Linked DNA regions of Homo sapiens. The protein of the gene in region 1 purifies or fractionates together with the protein of each later gene. This does not show direct contact. Each region holds a gene or a part of one and is shown in the gene's direction. Other genes may lie near its edges.

What was found.
Region 2: the proteins of SLC10A2 (region 1) and CLPTM1 purify together in Homo sapiens (affinity purification with mass spectrometry; 2 studies listed by BioGRID and IntAct, with this or other methods). This does not show direct contact.

Annotation. Positions count from the first base shown.
Region 1 is NC_000013.11:103,055,885-103,063,506, reverse strand, and holds part of SLC10A2 (ileal sodium/bile acid cotransporter), read left to right. Parts: intron 1-5,124; coding exon 5,125-5,243; intron 5,244-7,622. UniProt on the Homo sapiens protein: Plays a critical role in the sodium-dependent reabsorption of bile acids from the lumen of the small intestine. Transports various bile acids, unconjugated or conjugated, such as cholate and taurocholate.
Region 2 is NC_000019.10:44,950,682-44,958,759, forward strand, and holds the start of CLPTM1 (putative lipid scramblase CLPTM1), read left to right. Parts: upstream 1-4,698; 5' UTR 4,699-4,714; coding exon 4,715-4,786; intron 4,787-8,078. UniProt on the Homo sapiens protein: Involved in GABAergic but not glutamatergic transmission. Binds and traps GABAA receptors in the endoplasmic reticulum (ER).

The DNA of each region.
Region 1 (7,622 bases):
CAATCCTATCTAACATTTATATTTCCAGTTGTGTACACTTAGAATTTTACCTTCTCCATCTCCACTTGAACTCCAGCAATGGCATGAAGACATGACTGTTTATGTTAACAGGCAGCTACACTAATTGAGCTAATGCCACACAATGCCAGCAAAACCATTCCACCTGGTTTTAACTCTCTTGGTTATGGTTCTTGGGAGAAGAAACCAAAACATTTCTCTCTCACTCTGTCATCTCTTATGAACCTGGAAAGCCACCGCATTTTGCAATCTCTAGTGACTTTGAAAAACAAAAAAAAAATAGACAATAGTCCTTGATCATTGGAATCCAGCAAGTACTATTTCAGCTCCTTCTCTGACCACTCCCAGCCTGGAGTTTGTGAATCTGATTGGTGCACATATATTTTCACCTAAGTTGCAGCTGTGCCATGGACATCACATGCACAAAAAGCATCAGGGAGAAGAGATGGTGACTTTTCAGGTGAATCTGCTTGTGGCCAAAACCCATAGTTGAGAGGACACAGAAACATCCTATCTCCTTTTTGTCTGCTCTCTCCCCAGACACAGGCAAATATCCGGTGTCTTCATCCTTCTTAATGGCCTCAGCGACACCATGCAAGGACTTCTCATTTCCTTTCTTTGGCTTCCTCTTTGGGGAATCCATTCTTATGCATCCTTCTCCCAGTTGCCCCCAGTTCCTTCCCTGCCACCTACTTTCTACATTCCTTTTTATTATTTTACAGACTTTCCTACCACATCCTTTGTTCTTTGGGCAAATGCTGTTAGATTTTTCAGCTTCCAGTGCAGCATTCATTGATATTTTAGATATTCAAGAAATCTCACCCTGTAGCTTACCACAAATTCACAGCAATCAATCCTTCCTATGTCAACCCCATAAATGTCCTTCTCTTCTCTACTCTGGGAGACCTAACCCAAAACCATTCGGCTTTTTCCTTTATTCTCCCTAAAAGTAACCAAACATTGTTTCTCTCCAGTAGCACTGATTTTACTAGCTAATATTTATTAAACACTAGTATATGCCATGCACAGTGCTAAGTACTCAAAATAAGTTGGTATATTTCATCCTCCCAAGAATCCTCTAAAGTTAGTACTATTATTTTCTGCATTTGGCAGATAATGAAGTTAAGATTCATAACCTTGACCAAGGTCATTGAGTCAATGTATGCCTGAGTCAGAATTGGAATCACCCAGGTCTACCCACTACCACTTTGCAGGCTCATAAGCTTTCTCTACACTGCTTCTATCACTTTTCACTTCTCCAGTTTCTAGCACTGCCTATATACGCTACGTTAGAGCCTTCAAACTTGGTATTTTACTTCTAATATGATTACAATCTTTTACATTGCTTAACACTGATTTCACTGAATTCCTCAACATTCACTAAATTTACATTTATTCTTTCTTTTATTTCCATACACACAAAAGAAAATCTCCCTGGCAGTTAATAGAGCTGAAGTCAAAATTAAGACCAAGATTTTTTTTTTATTTTTCTTATACTTGACTCTTTTCTGTCAGTCTAATATAAATTCAAGGCAGTGTATGTATTTTTTATATACATGCCTTTTATAGAACTTCAGATTTTTTCGTGTAAGATAATATTTTCTTTTGCTAATTTAGGCTTCTATATTATTTCTTAAAATTCGTTATCTGTGAATTGTTTTAAATCTCATTTTGAGTGGTTTGATTTTGTTCTTATATTCATTCAAATAGCATCAACTTCCAGCTACCTATTCGTCTGTTCATCTGCAAGGTCTCTTCGTCAGTGCTGCTCACAAGTCTAAACCTTTCCTTCTCCAAACCCTCTTTTGTCCCTCATCACGATCCTTAAGAAACTGCTCTCACCAAACTCAAAATTATGATACAACGTCATAGATTGTCTTAGCAATATTCAGAATTAAAGGTTTTGCAAGGATCTTTGAAAAAAAAACAAAGACAGAAAAAGACTTCCTTCTTAAACATTTTCTCACATTTTAAAACAAAAATTCTCAGACTTCTCTTCACTGGAACCCAGTTAATAAATCCTCCTCACTTCCCCACCAGATTCCCACCACACTCTAGAAAAAAATATTGGATGCACAGAAAAAAAAGTGATTTTATTATAGGGACAACTTTAAATCCATTCTAATATATTTTTTAAAATAAAATAAAAAAAAAGAGAACACTGAAAGAAGAGAGGAAGGAACAGAGAAAAAAATTACCTTCAAACTCCAGTACTTTCATTATAAGTAGGACAAAGTACTATTAATAACAAATTAACTTGTTTGTCTGGTGTACAATTCTGCCTTAGCATCTATTTCATGCCTAAATTTACCTATAACCAGAATAGATTGAACTGCTTAAAGTTTTAAATACATCCACATTATTTGTTACTGTTGTAATATTTTAGCTCTACTAAAACAAGTATTTTTATCTAAATTATTTAAGCCTATTTTAAATGAGGTCATTCTGGTTAAAAATAAATATATTATTAGAGAAGTTAAGCTCTCTGATGAACTTTGTCCCACCCTGTATTTTGCCAAACTGTGCAAATTTAACTGTGCCTTGAAACAAAATTTCTCATTGTTAGCTCCTTTCTTAGTATAGTGTGTTGTTGTTGTTGTTGTTTTGGGGGGCAGGTAATATAAATATTTAACATTTTCTTTCAAGTACACCCATAATACCCTTAAGAAATTACTACTCTTGACAACCTCAATGACGACCTGTTGAGAGAAGGGCCTTTCAGAGAAATTTCTCATTTCTCTAAGTTTCCCGATTCTATTTGGTGGAACACAAGATACAAAAACATGGTAACATAAATGATCACAGCAGAGAGATGCAGGGTGCGGTGGCTCCCGCCTGTAATCCCAGCACTTTGGAAGGCCTAGGCGAGCGGATCACCTGAGCCCAGGAGTTTGAGACCAGCCTGGACAACATGGTGAAACCCCATCTCTACAAAAAATTTAAAAATTAGCCTGGCATGGTGGCTCATGCCTGTATTCCCAGCTACTCGGGAGGCTGAGGTGCAAAGATCACTTGAGCCCAGGCTTCAGTGAGCCAAGTTGGTGACCCTGTACTCTGGCCTGGGTGACAGAGAGAGACCCTATTTAAAAAAAAAAAAAAAAAAAAAATGGTAGTAGCAACCAGCTCTTAATAGAGTGCTTTGCATTGGTCTAAGTGCCGGACACCATTGGCTCATTCTATCCTTACAGCCATTTTAGATAAGGAAACTGGTAAAGAGAAGTCAACTAAATTACTCAAATTAACACACTAAGTGGCACCGCCTGCTTTCAGCCCAGACAGTGTGTGGCTTTAGAGCTCAGGCTTTAAAGGCAGAGAATGTACGCTGTGTACAGATCCCTTTGAAGAGGACCCGGAAGACTCACTCCCCAAAAATCTTTCTTTGACCCACTGTCCTAGTACTAGAGATAGCATCATTTGGCATTAATGTCTCCATGTAGATAGCCTACTCAGCCAGACCCTCTTATTAAAATGCAAACACTCTGAGCAGGGATGATACCAGACACTAGTTCTTCTGAACACACATTTGCCAAATTGCCAATAACTTACTCAGTGCTAAGAATTTATGTCTACCCTGCCGCTTGCATGCTTTCTTTTGATTTTTAAGTCAGCTTCCGCTTCTTGTCCCAAGCTAGGGTCACTTGGGCAGTAATTTTTCTGCTTTATGGCAACACAGCGAGGCCTCCTCCCTCGGACATGCATTCTATTCCAGGGGCCCAGGGAGGCCCATTCCATCTCAGCATGGTCAGACACATGCAGCCTTGGTGGTGTCAGCTGCTTTAAATGTGTTTGCTGTTCTTTGATTGAATGTTTGAAGGATGGCACACCCAGCGAACCTTATACATTATTTAATGATGACTTTAACCCATCGTTTAATACTGTTTCTGACCCTTAAGAATAAAAGGGGAGGGAAGGACGGCACAAGGCAAAGTGGAAAGACACCAAATATGGCCCATTTTGCTCAAGGCCAGGCCCTGAATACACTCAGGCACATAGGCACATGTATATTACTGTTCATCACACCAGACGATGCTACAGGTTGAGACAGATTCTTGCAGGACTTTCTTATCATGAATCGAAAATAAAAATTTTCTCCCATTCGGGAGGTTGTTTGTCTACTCTGCTTATAGTTTCCTTTGCTGTGCAGAAGCTCTTTAGTTTAATTAGATTCCAAGAAAACAATGAACAAACCCATTAAAAAGTGGGCAAATGACATGAACGGATGCTTCTCAAAAGAAGTCACACATGCAGCCAACAATCATATGAAAAAAAGTTCAACATCACTGATCATTAGAGAAATGCAAATCAAAACCACAATGAAATGCCATATCACATCAGTCAGAATGGCTATTATTAAAAAGGCAAAAATTAACAGATGCTGGCGAGGTTACAGAGAAAAAGGAATACTTATCTTCTGTTGGTGGGAGTGTAAATTAGTTCATCCATTGCGGAAAGCAGTGTGGCAATTCCTCAAAGACCTAAAAACAGAAATACACTCAACCCATCAATCCCATTACTGGGTATATACCCAAAAGAATACAAATCGTTCTATTATAAAGACACATGCACACATATGTCCACCGCAGCACTATTTACAATGGCATACATATGGAATCAACCTAATTGCCCATCAATGATAGACTGGATAAAGAAAATGTGGTACATACACACCATGGAATACTATGCAGCCATAAAAATGGACTAGATCAAGTCTTTTGCAGGAACATGGATGGAGCTGGAGGCCATTATCCTTAGCAAAGTAACACAAGGACAGAAAACCAAATACTGCATGTTCTCACTTATAAGTGGGAGCTAAATGATGAGAACGCATGGACACATAGAGGGGAACACAGACACTGGGGCCTATTAGAGGGTGGAGGGTGGGAGGAAAGAGAGGATCAGGAAACATAACTAATGGGTACTAGGCTTAATACCTAGGCAATGAAATAATCTGTACAACAAACCCCCATGACACAAGTTGACCTATATAACAAACATGCACATATACCCCTAAACTTAAAATAAAAGTTAAATTAAAAAATAAAAATAAAACAGCATCTTCCCTAGAACACCACAGGTGGATGTATCAATCTGCCCATTGCCTTTCAGCGTCAGCATGACCACATGCTCCACACTGCTTGCCCTCGGAATGATGCCGCTGTGCCTCCTTATCTATACCAAAATGTGGGTCGACTCTGGGAGCATCGTAATTCCCTATGATAACATAGGTAAGTCATCCATCTGTAAGACTGTTGACTGTTACCCTCAAACTCTCTGCTTACCCCCTGCTAGGCTCTCAGACCAGGCTCACACCTGACCGTTATTGCCCTAGTAGGAGTTTTTGCCTGATTTCATTATAAAGTCACCCCTGCGTTTGGAGAGTGATGGCAGAATGTAAATTCCAAACCTTGACCTTATGGGAGAACCTGTCTTTTCTTCAATTTGAATCACCAGGGAAAGGAGCCCCCTCCCCAGCCCTCAGTCTGGACTGAGGAGGCTTAAGCTTTGGGGACATGGGAGCTTGCACCTATTCCTTAACCCAGAGTGTCACTAGTTAATGGTCATAGGATTTTGCATCCAGACACTTGAATTGAAGAAATTTTTTTTTTTTTTGAGATGGAGTCTCACTCTGCCACCCAGCCTGGAGTGCAGGGGCGTGATCTCGGCTCACTGCAAATTTCACCCCCTGGGTTCAAGCAATTCTCCTGCCTCAGCCTCCCTAGTAGCTGGAATTACAAGCATGCACTACCACGCCTGGCTAATTTTTGTATTTTTAATAGGGACGGGGTTTCTCCATGTTGGTCAGGCTGGTCTCAAACTCCTGACCTCAAGTGATCTGCCGGCCTCAGCCTCCCAAAGTGGGATAACATGCATGAGCCACCACGCCCAGCCTGAAGAAATTTTTTAAAATCACATAATGGTTTCAAAATAGAGCACTGAGTAAGCAATCCAGAGTGTTACAACAGAAAACTGCTAGACGAAACACACTGTTTCTAACACTCGACTGTGAGCCACACCTTGACCCAAAAGTTGATTTAATGGCAAAGTCATGCTCCAGGAGTCAAATTTACTAGTAATGACTCTGTCTCATTTCACCCTCATCCCAAAAACCTTATTTTCTGTTTCTGGGGAAACAAATTATAGTGGGAGATTAAGTTATTGTTGTAACTTAGGGATGAGGGTCAAAGGAAGAACAAGAGAGTTCCTGGTATACCAGGAATAGGCATTTCCCACAGAACTATCACGAACAAAAGACAAGATGTGGGCAAAATAGTAAATCAGTAACAATCACCAGGTACACTATATGCCCCAAATACCTGGGTTTTTTTCCCCACTGACCTTGGAAAAAAATCCCAATGAGCTGCCTCAGAAAGGTGTGGGTTTCCCATTGAAGAAAGCATCCAAGCAAAGGCTAAATGATAAGCCACCTGGATGCTTGTAAAAGGGACTCCTATTGGGATAGGAAGCTGGGCTGAAATGCCTTCCATTTCTGAGAAAGACTGCTTCTGTGATTTAGGGTGATTGAGGGAATATACAACTGAATTAGAATAAACTTTGTGAATACTAATTGGGGATGATCTGTATTACAATGTTTGTAGCCTCTTCTCTCTCTCCTACTCTTACCATTACCATTAGACCAAAAAAAAAATTGTCCTCCTTGACATGCCCTATTCAGTATGGGCTTTTGATATACAAGATTCTTCAGACTCCAGGAGAGAACCTTAATATCATATATAACCTCCTGACAAGAGACTTTAGGGTGACCCTCCACTACCACCTGCTTTTGCCTTCATGCTGCTTGACTCTCTGGCTGCTCTGTCAGCGGACGCCTTCCATAGAGCTAAAAACCATAGTTTACGTGAGTGGTGACCATTATATCCCTCTCAAAGAACCTGTCTGCTGAGTGAGGAATTTTGATTCCACAATACTCACTGTAATAATTTAATAATTTAAGCCATAAAATATTCTCCTTTTGATATACATTCCCTTCTGAGAAATGACTCATGGAAATACTGAATAATTCTAACTGCAGTGTGAATGACTTATACCATATTCTGTGATGTGAATAAATTTTGAAATAAGGAGAAAATGAAAAATCAATTAGCACTTCAATGGAGGAAAAGGTCATCATAAGAGGTCAAGAGTGAAAAGAAAAGAAAAATAGGAAAAGAGAAAAGAAAACGGAAAAAGAGAGAAGTTTGAAAAACAAAGATATTGTTATATGTAAAATATTTATTCAGAAACAGAATACTTGTTCCTCAGTACCACAAGGAAAAATGAGCATTCAGACAAAAAGTTTTCTCAGCAAGGCAATTTTACTTTCTGCAGAAAGAGTGCTCCTCACAGATGGCACAATGGTGACAGCACACCTGAACAATGGAGGGAAGTAATTCGTATCCCTTATGCAGCTTGTCCCTGCTACTGTGTCCTGTCTCCATTGGCTGGAGCCAGACATCACAATCTAAGCTAAAACCTGACTGGCTAATAATTTAAAACTTTTCTAAATAGGTATAGGCAATAGACAACAAAGGAAAAGAGGACGTTGCTTGTGAAAGGACTTAGAAAAGTAATAATATTTCCAAATAAGGAAGGGGCATAGGCTGCAA
Region 2 (8,078 bases), on another chromosome or scaffold:
TCAGTGTATAATGGTCCCGTGGCAGAGGGAGAATGGTGCCCAAGTCAGTACTTCTTGGCTGGGACCCAAGAAGACAAACCTCTAGGGCCGGCGTGGTGGCTCACGCCTGTAATCCCAGCACTTTGGTTGGCTGAGGTGGGCAGATCATCTGAGGTCAGGAGTTCAAGACCAGCCTGGCCAACATGGTGAAACCTTGTCTCTAATAAAAACACAAAAATTAGCTAGGGGTGGCCCGCGCCTGTAATCCCAGTTACCTGGAGGCTGAGGCAGGAGAATTGCTTGTACCCTGGAGGCGGAGATAGTGCCACTGCACTCCAGCCTGGGCAGCAGAGTGAGACTCCGTCTCTAAAAAAAAAAAAGAAAAACTTATTAAAAAAAAATTGCAAGCAAAAAGCACAGAAGGCAGAAGGTGCAAATAAGCAGAGGCTCCATGGTCTGAAGGAGGCCAGTGCTGGGACCATGAATGAAGGGGGCTGGGGGCCAAGATTCCTGTATCCTGAGGGAGTCCAGGGTGGTACTGCTCCCCAAGTCCCATGGGTGGGGCTATTGGTCTCTGGGGATCCACTGCTTGTATTTCTCCTAATCTGCTTGGCATTAACCTCCTGCCAGGCTTTCAACACCCTTGGGGCAGTTTTCCCAGGTCCTGAGGCTGGGCAGCTGAGTCCAGTAAAAAACAGGGGCCCTGGAGAGGGACTGTGGGCAATGCCCCCGAGTCCCCGGGGCCTGGGAAGAACAGAGGCTGCCAAGTGCAGGGGGTGGTGGGGAGGGGAAGACCCTGGAGTAACAATCCCTGCTGTGTCCACTTGGTTCCCACGGACTCAAGCCAAGCCAAAGCACTGCCCGGACCAGTTCGGCTTCCAACCAATCCTGGTGCTGGCCTCAGACTCCTCCTTTCTTTCTCAGAACCCCATTCCCCTCAGGGCCCCCAGAGTCCAGGCCCCTAGATTCTTCTTCCCCTAGAACTCAGGAGTCTGGGACCCCCCAGTCCCTTCTCCTCAGGACCTAGAAGGTTGGATCCCCAGCCCCCTTTCTCCCTTAGAACCTGAAATCACAGCCCTTGATCAGTATTTTGCGCCCCCTAGTGGAGAGAAGAGTGGGTCTGTCCTGTGACTTACATACAGCAGGAATGGCAGAATTTTTTACTTATTATGATTTTTAATTTCTTTAGAGACAGGGTCTCACTCTGTCACCCAGGCTGGAGTGCAGTAATGTGATCACAGCTAATTGCAACCTCGAACGAACTCCTGGGCTCCGGCATCCCTCCCACCTCAGCCTCAGAGTAGCTGGACCACAGGTGGATGCCACCACACCACCTAATTTTGTTAATTTTTAGTAGAGCTAGGATCTCGCTATGTCACCAAGGCTGGTCTTAAACTCCTAGGCTCAAGCGATCCTTCTGCCTCAGCCTCCCAGAGTGCTAGGATTACAGGCATGAGCCACGAAGCCTGGACGGAATGGCAGAATTTATTTGGTCACTCCACAGAGCATAGGAAGGCTCTGCAGGGAACCTGCCTCCACAGGAGCCCTGTCCAAGGTCACACTTCTCATGAGAAGCTTAGACCTCATCATGCTCCAACACATTGGCCCTTGCAGTGTATGAGACTTGGAGAGCAGATTGCAGCAGTTTGTATTTATAGCTGAGAGCGCAGTTGGGGTTGCAGTGAGGCTGGAGAAAGTTTCAAAGCCCCTCACTTGCCTGGGCTTTCCATGGTCCTCTACCTAAATTTGTACAAGTCATTTTGTACTTTTTTTTTTTCAAGACAGAGTCTCCCTTTTCTTGCCCAGGCTGGAGTGCGATGGCATGATCTCGGCTCACCACAACCTCCGCTTCCCAGGTTCAAGCGATTCTCCTGCCTTGGCCTCCCAAGTAGCTGGGATTACAGGCATGTACCACCATGCCCAGCTAATTTTGTACTTTTAGTAGAGATGGGGTTTCTCCATTTTGGTCAGGCTGGTCTCGAACTCCCGACCTCAGGTGATCCACCAGCCTCTGCCTCCCAAAGTGCTGGGATTACAGTGTGAGCCACCACACCCAGCCAATTTTGTACTTTTTAAAAGAGGCCAGGCCAGGCGCGGTGGCTCATGCCTGTACTCCCAGCACTTTGGGAGACAGAGGCAGGCGGATCACGAGGTCAGGAGATCAAGACCATCCTGGCTAACACGGTGAAACCCCGTCTCTACTAAAAATACAAAAAATTAGCTGGGCGTGGTGGTGGGCGCCTGTAGTCCCAGCTACTCCGGAGGCTGAGACAGGAGAATGGTGTGAACCCAGGAGGCGGAGCTTGCATTGAGCTGAGATCATGCCACTGCACTCCAGCCTGGGTGACAGAGCAAGACTCCATCTCAAAAAAAAAAAAAAAAAGAGGCCCACAAAACACATAAGCTTCAGACCCCACAAAGTCTCTCCTCAATCCCTGTCTTAGTCTATTCACTTCATCCCTGGACTTAAAAGACTGGGCCTACACATTCAAAGAATCGTTATTAACACCATTATTGTCTGTAACAGTGAGGATGAGGCACTGAGTTTTCTTTTTCTTTTCTTTCTTCTTTTTTGGAGGTGGAGTCTTGCTCTGTTGCCCAGGCCGGAATTCAGTGGCATGATCTTGGCTCACTGCAACCTCTGCCTCCCGGGTTCAAGCAATTCTCCTGCCTCAGCCTCCCGAGTAGCTGGAGTTACAGACGTCCGCCACCATGCCCGGCTAATTTTTGTATTTTTAGTAGAGACGGGGTTTCACAATGTTGGCCAGGCTGGTCTTGAACTCCCGACCTCAGGTGATCCGCCTGCCTCGGCCTCCCAAAGTGCTGGGATTACAGGCGTGAGCCACCGCGCCTGGCTGAGGAGCGAAGTTTTCTAAGGTTCCTTCTTGTCCTGTGTTAGCCCTCAGAGAGGTAAGTCACTCACCTTCTGCACCTAGAGAGCCTCATCCCCAGGGCAATCATCCCCAGGGCAGTGCTGGAGATACAGCAGTGACCACAACAGTCCCAGGTCAGCCTGCCCAGTTGGGGAGACACACCCATCCCTGACAGTGATGACACAAAGTGAGCAGGGATGGGGTGGAGGAGCTGAGGGGGCAAGGGAGGATAGGAAAAGGGCTCAGAGAGAGTTTCCTAGAGCGAGAGCTACTGTTACAGGGCTGAGACCTAGAGGAAAGTGGAGGAAACCGATAATAAAATGATAATTATATATTCAGAATATCCCAATGCAAAGCTTACTCTTTTTCCAGGTAATATATAAGGTTCATAATCACAGCGCTCCAAATATTGACCACTTAAGCATGAGGCCCAGGGCCTGATGTTTTCCATTCGCCATCTAACTACGTCTTCCCAATAACACAGCGGGGCAAAACGGGAAGACGAAGAACGAGTACGATTATATCCCTGGTTTATAAAAGGGGAGAAACTGAGGCTCAAACATAGATGTCACTTGTCACCAGCCTGGCCAACACGGTGAAACTCCGTCTCTACTTACAAAAAAAAAAAAAAAATGGGAGGCTGACGCAGGAGAATTGCTTGAATCCGGGAGGCAGAGGTTGCAGTGAGCCGAGATCGCGCCACTGCACTCCAGCCTGGGTGACAGAGCGAGACTCCGTCTCAAAAAAAAAAAAAAAATTAGCCAGGAGTGGTGGCGTGCTCCTGTAATCCCAGCTACTCGGGAGGCCGAGGATGCAGTGAGCCGAGGTTGCAGTGAGCCGAGATCGCGCCATTGCACTCCAGCCTGGGGGAGAGTGAGGCTCCGTCTAAAAAAGAAAAAAAAAGAGAGAGAGAGACGTCACTTGTCCAGGATATCTTATCCAGTCAGTAGCACCACAAGGGTTAGAACCCTGGCCAGACATCCACCCAATTTCACGGGTGAACAGTTAACAGCCTCTGAGAGTCTTGTCCTCTCTGGGCCTCCGTAACACCCTCTCCAAACTAAGGGTCTCTCAGCAGATGGCCGGGTTTAGAGCTGTACGAAGACACACAGCTAATGAAAAATTGTGGAATTCTCAGAGCCCGTGAAGCCTAGCCCACGGATGCGAGGTTTGGACCACTGAGGGAACGCGCATGCGTGCTAGGCAGGGCAGTCCGAAGGCTTGGGGGTGTATCATAGGGTCTCATCGGAGGTTTGTTGGCCGTAAGACCCCTGGAATTGGAACTCTAAAAACACAGAAAGGATATGAGCTCAGGAGACTTGAACGAAAGAGTTGTCTTAGGAAGAGGGGTCAGAAGACAAGGGTGCTGGGCAAAAGGCTAGTTCTTCGAATCAGAATACGGTGGCCAGAAAGGTTCCTCTGACGAAAGAGGGGCGTGGTTCGAAGCCGTACAGTGGCCGGTAAAGCTCAAGAAACATGGAACGAAAAGGACGCGAAGAATCGGCAGGGAGAAGCGGACAGGATGTCCCGAAAGGCTCATATAACCGAAAAGGCGGGTTAATGTGAAGGGACGGAAGGGACAGAACTTGCGGGAGGCACATGCTGGCCGAGAAAGTCCTGGAGTTCGGAGCATACAGTGTTTTTATTAGGTGGAAACAAACGGGCTGGGAGAAAGACGAGTACGGTGGCCAGGTTGGTCCTTCCATAGCCGGAAGTGGCCTTCCTGAGAGGCGTGGCTGCGGCACTCTTGCCGGATAGGGTGGCCCGGCGGGGCTAGGAAAGCGTGAAATCTCGCGCGATTGCGCTGCGAAGTCGGGGACGGGGCGGGGCTGGCGGCGGGGGCGGGGACCCGGAGCGGGAAGATGGCGGCGGCGCAGGAGGCGGACGGGGCCCGCAGCGCCGTGGTGGCGGCCGGGGGAGGCAGCTCCGGTCAGGTACGGAGGCCGAGAGGGGACTGAGGGGGTTCTTCCCCAGCCGGGGGGCCTCCCACGGGGCGTGTCCTACCTCTTGTCACGGAATCCCGTGCACTGGGGGCTCCTTGGCCAGAGGGACCTTGAATACCCGGCCCAGGCAGGGCCGGACCGCCCGGGAGGCCGGACGGTGCCGGGAACAGGGCCCTGTTGCGGGTCGGTTCCCCTGCACGCTCGAGCCGGGCGGCCACCAGGCTCATTGCTCGATCCGGGGAGACAGTGGCTCGGAGGGGCGCAGGCTTGTACCTTGGCGCGCTGGGTTCTCAACTCCGCGATTCCATGCTCTGAGGCCGTTCCTAGAGTGGTCTGGCGTTCAGGTCTCGTTGTAGTGTTTGAGGTGTGCGCAGTGATTAATTGGGAGTTTTCTAGCTGTGGGGAAGTCAGTATTAGCAGGGCACGGCCGACAGACCCATTTTACAGACGGGAATTCAAGGAACAGTGAGACTAAGGCGCTTCTAGAAGGTCATCCTGGTTAGGTTTGTAACTTTATGTAGAAGTTACAAGACACTGCTGACACAGGGACTGGTATGGTTGTGGTTTTAATGTAAAATAGTTCTATGGGTTAATTAGTCCTGGTGCGGATGACTTCTGCCCCACTGCTGTCTTAACACACTGCAGAGCATACCATTTCAGGCAGCTACCGTTCAGGCATTTGGGGAATAGATGGAGAGACATGAAGGTGCTGTCGACCCACCCACTGGGATGTCACTGACATGTGGGAGGCAGCTCAGGGGAAAGGAGTGCGGGTTGAGAGGGGAGAATGAAGCTGACTCTCTGTGTGACCTTGGGCAAGTTCCTTTCCCTCTTTAGGCCTTTATCTCTCCCGTGTTAAATGCAGAGGTTGGACAGGAGGGCCAGCCATATCCCTGCTGTCAGGGGACGAAGAGAGGAGACTGACATGTAAACAGTTGTAATCCTGAATGATTAGGTTGGTGACAAAAGTCTGTGTCAGGGACTGGGGGAGCCCAGAGAAAGAGCAAGTGGTATCACTTGGGTAGGACACATGGATGAAATTTGTGTGATAGAGCCCACTGTATCTGCTCTGAATCTTTTCAGCATTCTCAGCCAGGGCCTGGCTTCAGGGACAGCTTAGGAAATGTTTGTTGAGTTAGTGCTGGAATGAAGGCTCAGTTCCTGTCTTCAAGGGTTTCCCAGTCTTGCTGAAAGGAGGTCGTTTCCCCTCTGGGTTTCTGTTGATTATTGGGTTGATGGTGGCTTGAGAGACCAGGGCCCAGGTTGTTCTCATTGCCCTGAGCTTCCAGATGGCACTCTGATCTTCTCTTGTACCAACTCTGCTTAAAAACAATCAAGAGTTACCCCTTTGCCTTTAGGACAAAGTACAAATTCTTTAATAAATCACAGTCTTGCACGATCCGACACTTTTCTTCAGACTAGACTAGGATTTCTCGAGCTCGGCACTATCAACATTTTGAATTGGATAATGCTTTGTTTGGGGGGCTGCCCTGTGCATTTTAGGATGTTTAGCAGCATCCGTGGCCTCTACGCACTAGATGTCAGTAGGATCCACGCCCCTCCCCAGTTGTGACAACCATATATGTCTCCAGACATTGCCAAATGTTCCAAGAGCAGGGGGGCAAAGCCATCCCTGCGTGAGAACAACTGCGCTAAAGGGGATCCGCTGCTCTGAACCTATTTTATTTCTAAACCTCTTTTATTGCCTCTCAGTCTCTTTCCTCATAGTCTATGCACAGGTCTCTCCCCTCTTTAGCTAGTTGATGTGTATTAGTCCTACAGATTTCAGATGTCCCTTCCTGCAGAAAGCCCTCTTTGACTGTCTGGGCTCCGCTGTCCCAGCCCTGCCCTACTGGGTTTCACTGTCTGGGGACTGGGAACCCCAGGAGGGCAGAGCCAGGACTGCCTTGATCACCACTGCTTCCTTAGCACCACTCAGCTCAGCGCCAGGCACAGAGGAGGTGCTCAGTGTTTGTGGAATGAGCGGATCTTGAAACAGAGGCTGGGCTGAGGTGGAATTCCCTGATGCCGTGGTGGATCCAGGTAATCAGTGAAGACATGCCGCAAAACCTAGCTTCCTCCTGCTCTTGCCTAGCCCTGGTGGTCTCAGCTACTTCTTGGACCCTTTAGCAGATGTTGCTGGGGATTGTGTGTGTGCGTGGACGTGCAGATCCGAGAGCAGGAACTGTGTCTTAGTCACTGATGTGTCCACAGCCACTGCCACCCTTCTCCCATGCCCAGGGCCTAGTGCACAGCAGGCACACCCTCTGCACAGTCTGCTGCTTTAGCTAGCCTGCTCCTGTAGCCAGGAACTCGGACACAGAACCCACAGCTTTGCCATTCCTTCCTTCAGCGAATGCGAATTGAGTCTACTCCATGCTAGGCCTTTGCTGATGCTGGAGATACAGCTGTGAATAAAATAGGTGCTGCCCTCTTGAAGGCCCTTACACTTATGTTCTAGTTGGAGCTGAATTTATAGGGGAAGCACAGACAGGGACACACAGTGAACAAGATAAATAAGAAAAACAGCAGTTCAGATGGCTCTGCGTGCCATGGACAGAAATAAAGCTGGGATGGGGATAGGAAGTGAGGGGTGGGTAGAAGAGTTGCAATTAAATAGGGTAGTCTAGAAGGCCTCTCTGAGGAGGTGACGCTTGAACAAAGACCTGAAGGAAGTGAGAGAGGGAGTCCCAAAGATACACGAGGGAAAAGCTTTTCAGGCAAAGGAGCAGCCAGTGCGAAGGCCCTAAAGTGGGAGGTGCCTGGTGTGATGAAGGAAGGGCGAGGAGGCTGGAGCGGGTGAGGGGAGAGGGGTGGCTGGGGACAGATGCAGATTATGCCAAGCTTTGGAGGCCATGGGGAGGACTTGGCCTTTACTCTGAGGGAAATAGGAGCTGAAAAGAGTGACTCTTTTTTTTTTTTTCTTTTTTCTGAGACGGAGTCTCGCTTTCTCACCACAATCTCGGCTCACTGCAACCTCCGTCTCCTGGGTTCAGGCAATTCTTCTACCTCAGCCTCTCAAGTAGCTGGGATTACAAGCACCTGCCACCACACCCAGCTAATTTTTGTATTTTTAGTAGAGACAGGGTTTCACCAGGTTGGCCAGGCTGGTCTTGAACTCCTGACCTCAGGTGATCTGCCCACCTCGGCCTCCCAAAGTGCTGGGATTTCAGGCGTGAGCCACCACGTCCAGCCTTGTGGTATAATTTAGATGGTATAACGTTCACCTGTTCTTAGGATAGAGTCCATTGGCTCCTGGTCCATTTATGCAGTTGTGTGGTGC